Homo sapiens: one gene and its partner. The protein of the gene in region 1 interacts with the protein of each later gene in a biochemical or structural test. Each region holds a gene or a part of one and is shown on either strand. Other genes may lie near its edges.

Region 1 (4,358 bases):
GGAAAGGTTTAGTCCTTAGAACTCTGCTTTTCTCCTCAAGAGTTCCCTCCCTCAGAGATTCTATCTGTTCTCATTCATTCTATCTAGGTCCACCTCTATGTGGATGTCAGCTGATCTCCCTCAAAGGCACTTCTCCAGGATTTATTCTCTCTAGGTATAACATTTAGTTTTGCCTATACAGTTAATTTTGCTCCAGTCTTCCCAATTTCCCTTTCATCATCCACAGCACCATTGATTTCCTGATGCTGCACATTTCCAGTCTTGGAATTACCTTTGATTCTTCTTAAGCTTGTCACTTCCAAATTATTTTCCAAATTCTCTTCACCCTAACTCCACTGGGCCCATTAACTTTGTCCACTGTTTCCTCCTCTCCCTTCTCTGTCCCTATGTGACACCGGAGCCAGATTTTCTCTTTCGTTGGGTGTGTAAGTATCCGACTCGCCTCCTGCCCGGGCGTGTTGCCGGAGGATGTGGCCAGCAGGCTGAACACACATGACAACGTGAGGCTCAAAGTCAGGAAGGAATCCTTAGCGATTATTTTACAGTTGAGGGATGAGATGCCCGGGGTGGACAACCCTCTGGTTTCGGTCACAATCAGCCAGCCTCTCGCGCTCCAGCACCCCCTCTATTGCTTCGCCGTGGTCGGTGTCTTCTTTCCTTCACACCTTTGGTACAGACCCAGCCGGCACCGCGCGCAACGCCGCTAGAGCCCCTCAGAGCCCCAGCTCCCGACCACCCGCCGGAGAATTTCGAGTCCCTCAGGAAAGCAGCTCCCATTGGCCAGCCCGGCCCCCTCCCCGCACCTCATTGGCTACTGTCCTGCAGGTCCCGCCCTCTCGGCGCCTCAGGTTCCAGCGAGGGCGTAACGGCAGTGAAGTGAAAAATGGCGGGAAAGGCCGCCTCTGAGCTGGCCGTGCATCTGCGCAACGCTGGCTTGGGAGCCGGCCGGTGGTGGAGGAGCCCTCGACGACAGCCTCAAGGCCTGCCGCTCCTCACGCGCCCGGCTGCCACTAGACCATGGACGCAGGCAGCCGCGCGCTCCACCGCTCCGGGCCCGGCGCTCCACGCCGATCGGACGGGCGTCGCTCACACCACCGAGGCGAGCCCGGACACTGAAGCCACTTTGTTGTCCTCGGCCCAGGGCTGCAGGTTCTGCAGCGCGAAGAGCGACGAGTTGTGCAGGCAGAGAGGGTCCGGGGGCAGCGGCGGCCGCAGCGGCCGTGGCAACGCGTCCTGCTGCAGATGCAGGAGCAGCCGGCCCGCGCGGTGCCGCTCGGCCTCGCGCTCCTCCGCCGTCTGGCGCCTAAGGGAGGGAGACGCGGGGTCAGCGGGGCGCCCGCCGCGTCGCTTCTCACCAGGCCCTGCTCGGGAACCCCAGTCCGCCCTCGCCCGCGCCGCGCCTCACCGCCACTTGGTGCGTCGGTTCTGGAACCACGTTTTGACCTGTGCGTCGGTCATGCGCAAGGCCTTGGCCAGCGCCGCCCTCTCCGCAGAGGCCAGGTACTTCTGGCGCAGGAAGCGCCGCTCCAACTCCAGCACCTGTGAGCGGGAGAAGGACGTGCGCGGCTTCTTCCGCTTCGGAGGGGTCCGGTTTTGGTAGGGGTGGCCTATGCGGCGCGTCCCAGAGAAGGGCGAGAGCGCAGCTACCGGGAGGAAGAAAGACCAGGGCAGGATTTGCAGGGTGGCCCGAGGTGCCACTGAGAAGGCCGCGCGGCTGTCCAGGCCGCAGAACTCCCGCGCCCTGTCCTTACCCGGGCCCTAAGCATCAGCCGAGCCCTATAGCCAAGAAAGGCCCTTCCCCTGGGATGCGAGGGAGACGTCCCCTGTAACTTCACCCTCCCCTCCCCACGCGTGGACAGTGGGACTACAGAGGAGGGCGCGGGCACCGACGGCAGCTCCCTCCCCATCACCTCTCGGAGGCAGGACCCAGAGATTTGAGTTGGGGGAGGATCCCCTGGGAGGATCTAGTGGGAGGTGTGAAAGGGGTCCTTGAGTTGGAGCAGAAAGCTAAGAAATGAGGAGACGGGGTCAGAGTCGGGCGTGACGCTGGAGGGGTCAGACAACCTCACCCGTGAGCCGGTCCTTGGCAAAGCGGCGGCCGCTGTCCATCCAGGGGAAGGTGAGTCCCGCTAGGCCTCCGGCGCCGCCCAAACCCGAGGGCCCAGGCACTGCAGGCGCCCCCCCAGCGGGCGGCGGCACAGGCAGCGGGCGGTGCGCAGGGACGCGGATCACGCCGCCTGGGCCCACTCCGGAGCTGCCGGGCAGCGGGGCAAGTGAGCCGGCGGGACCGTAGCCCGAGGCTCCGTGGTATCCACCCGAGAACGCCCCATTCTCCCCATGACCCTGGCCCCCGCGACCCAGGCCTAGACCGCCCCCTGGGGTTTCGGGGCCGCTCAGGATCTGATCGATGCCGAAGCTGATTGGCTCGTGGTGTGGGAGGTTGTGTGGACCCAGCATCCCCGGCTCCATCGGTCTGGGCCGAGGAGAACCGCCGGAGGTTCGGTGGTTGGGGAGGATGCCTCAGGCAGCGCCAGAAGCCCAGCGGCGGCGCGCTCCGGAGAGTGGCCTCAGGGGCCCGCGGGGCTGGCCAAGGCAGGGCGCCGGGGTCCCCGAAACAGCAGCATCCCTGTGCACCCGGAGCAGCCGCGCCCGTGCCAGCCGCTGCCGGGCGTCAGCGCAGGGACTTGCATCCCGGGGGAGCACGGCCAGCTGGGGCCCCTGGAGCTTCCTTGCTGGCTCTTAAGCGCAAATAGACGCTGGGCTGCCGGCGCCGCTGCCCAAGTCCCGGGTGGAGAGGGTTGGCCAGCTCCGGCTGGGGCAGTGACTGACGGATCGGCCCGGGTGGGTAGTGGGGGCTGGGGGTAGGGCAGGGGCGGGGCCCAGCAGTTAAAGGGGAAGGGACGCCTGTTTGCGCCAAGCGCAGGGGGAAGGCTGGCTGGCGGAGATGTGCGGGGAGGGGGACAGGGGGCCAGGGTGTTAGGAGCCAGGCTCAGCGCGGGAGGGGCCCGAGCATGGGCCGCTGAGTCAGCGGAGATGCTCACCGCGCCTCCATCCTTGCTGGCCTCCGCCTTTGGGCGGCCTCCGCCTTTGGGCTGCCTCCGCCTCACCGGCTTCCTCCGCAGGTGCCTCCTCCCCCAGCCCCCACTCTTCGCCTCTCGATGGATCCTTCTGGCCAACTCCCGGATTCGTTGTGGTCCCCGCCTAAATGCTCTCGAAGACCAAATCTCGTTGTGGTTTCCCGGCTGCGTAAGAAGCGGCTGGGGAACGGCGCCCGGTGAGCTGCAGGCCCAGGAAGAGAACAGGTGTGGGAAGGGGACGGCAGGGGCTAAGGGCGGGGAACGGCCGCTTTGGGCTGGCGATCGTGGTGCGCCTTCTGGCCTCTCCTGTAGGTCCCCCCAGCCCTGTTCATGCGCACCGGTAATTGGTGTCCTGTGTTTCCTAGAATTTCGATTTTCCAAAATCCGTGTAAAACGGACCATGGCTCAACCCGGGCCAAATCAGGCCGGCGGGTTCTTGGGGCTGGCACTTACCCCCGGACCCCAAGTGCAGGGAGTCCTCAATGCAGGACTCTGCCCCTCCATTCTGTGCCTAGGAAGTCTGTTCTCACACTCTTCCTCCTCAACGGCGGGAGGGCGAAATCTCGCCACGGGGGACACGTGGGACCTCACTGAGGCCTTGGTTGGATCCTGGCCGCCTTGTTTCCCATAAACATTTTACCCCACCCAAACTCAAAAAATGGCCTGGAGCTGTCAGAGAAGGGAGGTGGGGAAAGACCTAAGCCGCTTGGTGACCTTGTGACCTCTGGCCATGAATCCAGGAGCCGGGAGTGCGTGAACTCTGCGTCCTTCCCGGGGATGGGACCCCCGCGGGCGGGCCCCTGAGCCTTAGACCCGCCCCCGCCGCCGCCCTGCCCGGTGCAGGCCGCGGTAATCGGGTTAGCTGGGCCGGAATTACATTACCTTCCCCGGCCCGCCCCGGCCCCCGGGGGGGCCCTGGCGCCTCTGAGCCGGTGAGACTGGGCTCAGAGAGGGGGGCGCTTCTACCATCCTGCGGTGGCGGTGGCGGGTGGGCACCAACGAGCAGCTCAGCCTACCTCTGACACGTGGTGGCCAAAGGACCTTACCCTGCTGTGCCAGCCCTCTACCCTCGTCCCGAGCCCACCCCGCTGTTCAGCTCCATCCTGCTGGTTCCCGTGTGAACCGAAATGCTTTGTAAGTCTACTAGCTGGATCTCCCTGGGAGCACTGATCTTCAAACTGATTCTCCAGGATCCCCTGGGAAAGACTCTGCCCCCTCCTTTCTCCCCAGCAGATGGGCTGGCAGCCTGGCGCCTGGGGCAGGGTGAAGGGGTCTTTTCTC
Region 2 (3,801 bases), on another chromosome or scaffold:
GGCGTCTCACTGGAGTGCAGTGGCACGATCTTAGGTCACTTGGGCCCTGAACTCCCAGACTCAAGCGATTCTCCCACGTCAGCTTCCTGAGTAGCTGGGACTACAGGTGCAAACCACCATGTCTGGCTAATTTTTATTTTTGCAGAGATGGAGTCTCACTCACTGTGTTGCCTTGGCCGGTCTCAAACTCCTGGGCTCAAGTGATCCTCCCACCTCGGCCTCCTAAGGCACTGGGATATTTTCTATTTTCTTTCCTTTTTTTTTTTTTTTTTTTTTTTTTTTTTTTGAGACAGTGTCTCACACTGTTGCCCAGGCTGGAGGGCGGTGGCATGATCTCAGCTCACTGCAACCTCCGCCTCCTGGGTTCAGGCGATTCTCATGTCTCAGCCTCCCGAGTAGCTGGGATTCCAGGTGCGCCACCATGCCCAGCTAATTTTTGTACTTTTAGTAGAGATGGGGGTCTTGCTATGTTGCCCAGGCTGGTCTCGAATTCCTGGGCTCAAGCGATCCTCCCGCCTCGGCCCCTCTAAGATGCTGGGGTATTTTCATTACTATGGACGCGATTGCTGCGATGATCATTTTGATTGCAGACAATCTTCCAGGAAGCAGGGAACAGCCTGAGGCCCCGCTCCGTGTTCTGTGGCATGGAAACTAAGGCTCAGAGAGGGGCGGAGACCTGGCTGAGGTCCCACAGGGTCTCAGGGCCGGTGTGAGGATAAGAATCAGGGCCCTGACCCCCTGGAAGGCCACGGGTCCCTTTCTCAGAACAGCCTGTTCTCTGTAAGATTGGGGTCTCAGGAAGGTAGGGAGACGTTGACCCTGGACTCCCACTGTGTGTGCCAGCGGATGTGGCTGGACTCGGTCCCATTTCCAGGCCGGGATGGGCAGAGCAGCTGCTGCCAGATCACCCTCCCTGCTCTGTGCTCCACGTCCCCTTGGGCCACCTCCGGCCGTGGGGTGCTTCGGGGGGAGGGGCAGGACATCAGATTTCACCTATTACTGAGGCTCTGAAAATAGCCTCCCCACCCAGTGAGACCAGAGTCAGCTTGTACCAGCGAAGCTCCCCCACCCCAATGTCCCCCAAAGCGTGAGTCACCGTAACAGCTGCGGCGGGGACCGGACCTCAGGGCCCTTTTCCGCTGCCCCCGCTTCCCCAGCCAACCTGCTAAGGCAAAGGGGAGGTGGAGGGGGCCCGGCCCAGGCCCTGTCCAATCTCGTCCCTGCCCCTGACTGGATGAGACCCAGAGATGGGGAGTGGTTTGTCCAGGGTCACACAGCCGGTCAGCAGAGCTGGGACCAGAGCCCAGATGGTCTGGCCAGGGAAGCCGGGCAGTGGGGGTGGTGGGGGGCACAGTGGGACGCGGCAGAGAGGACCCATAGAGGCGCAGGACCTGCCTGTGGAGGAGATGCCAGGCGGGCAGGAGGCCCGGACAATGTTGTCCAGCTGGGGCCGTGGCTGCCACCCAAGCTCTGGCGCTTACTGGGGCTGTGATAAGAGGCTGCTGGAAGGGACAGGGGAGGCATCCATGATGGGGGCAGGGATCACTGTCCCCCCAACTCCTTCTCTCCCCAACCCCCCTCTCTCTCTGAATTCCCCCTCCCCACTTCCCCTCTCCTCTTAATTCCTTTTCTCATCTGGCCCCTCGTAGATCTGAGTTCCCTTCCTCCTCCCTAACTGTCCCTCCCTTCTCTATGTTCCTCCCCTTCTCTGTGCCCTTTCCGGGGACAGGTGCCAGGGAGGCGGGCAGGGGTGGGGGCCCACGTCAGTGGTGACCCCGGCTAGTTACAGAGGCAGGAAGACAAACAGCTTGTAACTGGGTCATGGACCTGCTGCCCCATCCTCCCTTGTCCTCCCCAGGGGATCAGACCACGTGAGAGGCAGGGCCTGGTTGGCCGGTTGTCACTCTGTTTCTCCCACATGACCTGCAATAACCAGGGCCTCTTCCCCAGGGACCTCCTACTGCCCTCAGAGGCCCAACCGGCAAAAGAGATAACCAAGACAAGCTAGATGCTGAAAATCCTCCCAAACTCCTACACATCCCTCAACGCCCTATCTCTAGTGTCCCCTCCTTCAAGCAGCCTTTCCTCCTCAACCCAGGGTTTCCCAGATCTAGCCAGGACCATCCAGTTCTATCACCTCTCCCTCTCCAATCCTGAGGCCCAGAGTTGAGGCACCCACTGTCGGAGAAGGTGGCTGGGTGACAGTAAGGTCTATTTTCACCATCTGAATGGCTGGGGAACAGATCACCTCAGATAAGCCTCAGTCTCTCATTCTGTACAATGGGCAGAAAGGAATATTGCAGCCTGCTGGAGACAGGGGAGCTTGCCTGGTGACCTTGTTCCTTGCAAGGTGATGGGGAGAAGGGGAACAAGGCTAGGTCTTTCCTGGAAACCCCAGCTTAGCCCACTGGGACTTCCTGGCCAAAGAGAGCAGCAGCAGCTGGGAGAGACATCTGGACCCAAGACCTTGCTGAACGACCACGCCATGCACTGGGTGATGCCCTCACTCACCTCCCTGTGCTCCTCCCACCCTGAAAGTCCAGGCCAGCAAACCAGGACAAGAAACTCCAATTTCCAAACCAAAAGTTTCCAGGTAAAAGTGACTCAACAATCCTTCATGAGAATCTAGCTCATTACCTACTTAGCACTTATCCCAAATTCCTACGCATCCTTCAAAGCCTTAGTTCTAATGCCTTCTTCTCCGGGTCGGATGACTTGTCCATGGTCCCACGGACAACCCCAGGCCCATCCGGCACCAGCGTCAGGCTCTAACCTTGGGCCGCTCCTTCCCCTGGCTCAGAAAATCACAGCCTGTGGACATGTGAACGGCTCCCAGAGAGGGAAGATTCATTCTGTTGCTCAGCAAACATTTAGTGAGTGCCTGCTGCATGCCGGTCCCAGGTAGGGTGCCGAGGACTTGGCAGGGACCTGGGCTCGGCCCTCACCTGGATCCAGATCTGGGGCAGGGACGGATGGTTAAAATCAGCAAAATATGTAATAAAACGTCAAGTTGGGCAAAGTGCTCTGAAGAAATTTAAGAGTTTGAGGGACCAGAGAATCTCTGGGGTGGGGGGTGTTTTTTAGCTTGGGGGGGGGGTCCAGGAAGGTCTCTTGCAGGAGGAGACACCTGAACAAAGTCTTGAGAGATGGCACTCCAGGCCAGGAGCTTTCTGATGGAGAAATGGGTCATGCAAAGGCCCTGGGGCAGGACCGCACCTGGCGTGTTAGAGGAACAGCGAGGAGGCCCATGTGGCTGGAGCAGAATGAGCAAGGGGGAAAGAGAGAGGAGGGGAGGGTTGAGGAGGGGACAAGGACAGGCTGGGCAGGGCCTTGTGGGCCACAGTGAGGAATTTGGGTAAACTGAGTCCACAGGGTTCAAACTCTCTGCCAAGGCAGTGAGTCAGCAAAATGAACCCTGGGTCCCCTACTTCCCTCTGTGCCTTGATGTTCTGGGAGGACAATGAGGGCTGAGCCAGAGGGGCCAGGAGGTGGAGGAGAGAGGCAGGGAGCGAGGCTGTGCCTCTTACAGGCTGAGCGTTTGCTGAGCTATCACGTCTACTACGAAATAGGGGCCGGGCGCGGTGGCTCACACCTGTAATCCCAGCACTTTGGGAGGCCGAGGCGGGCGGATCACCTGAGGTCAGGAGTTCAAGACCAGCCTGGCCAACATGGTGAAACCCCATCTCTACTAAAAACACCAAAATTAGCCAGGTGCGGTGACACACACCTGCAATCCCATCTACTTGGGAAGCTGAGGCGGGAAAATCGCTTGAACCCGGGAGGCGGAGGTTGCAGTGAGCC

The links.
Region 2: the proteins of TLX2 (region 1) and NFIC form a complex in vitro, tested with the Homo sapiens proteins (one study listed by BioGRID).

Annotation. Positions count from the first base shown.
Region 1 is NC_000002.12:74,512,918-74,517,275, reverse strand, and holds TLX2 (T-cell leukemia homeobox protein 2), read right to left. Parts: upstream 2,827-4,358; 5' UTR 2,470-2,826; coding exon 2,070-2,469; intron 1,644-2,069; coding exon 1,406-1,643; intron 1,304-1,405; coding exon 1,087-1,303; 3' UTR 128-1,086; downstream 1-127. UniProt on the Homo sapiens protein: Transcription activator that binds DNA elements with the consensus sequence 5'-CGGTAATTGG-3'. Binds DNA via its homeobox. Required for normal cell death of enteric neurons in the gastrointestinal tract.
Region 2 is NC_000019.10:3,372,914-3,376,714, reverse strand, and holds part of NFIC (nuclear factor 1 C-type), read right to left. Parts: intron 1-3,801.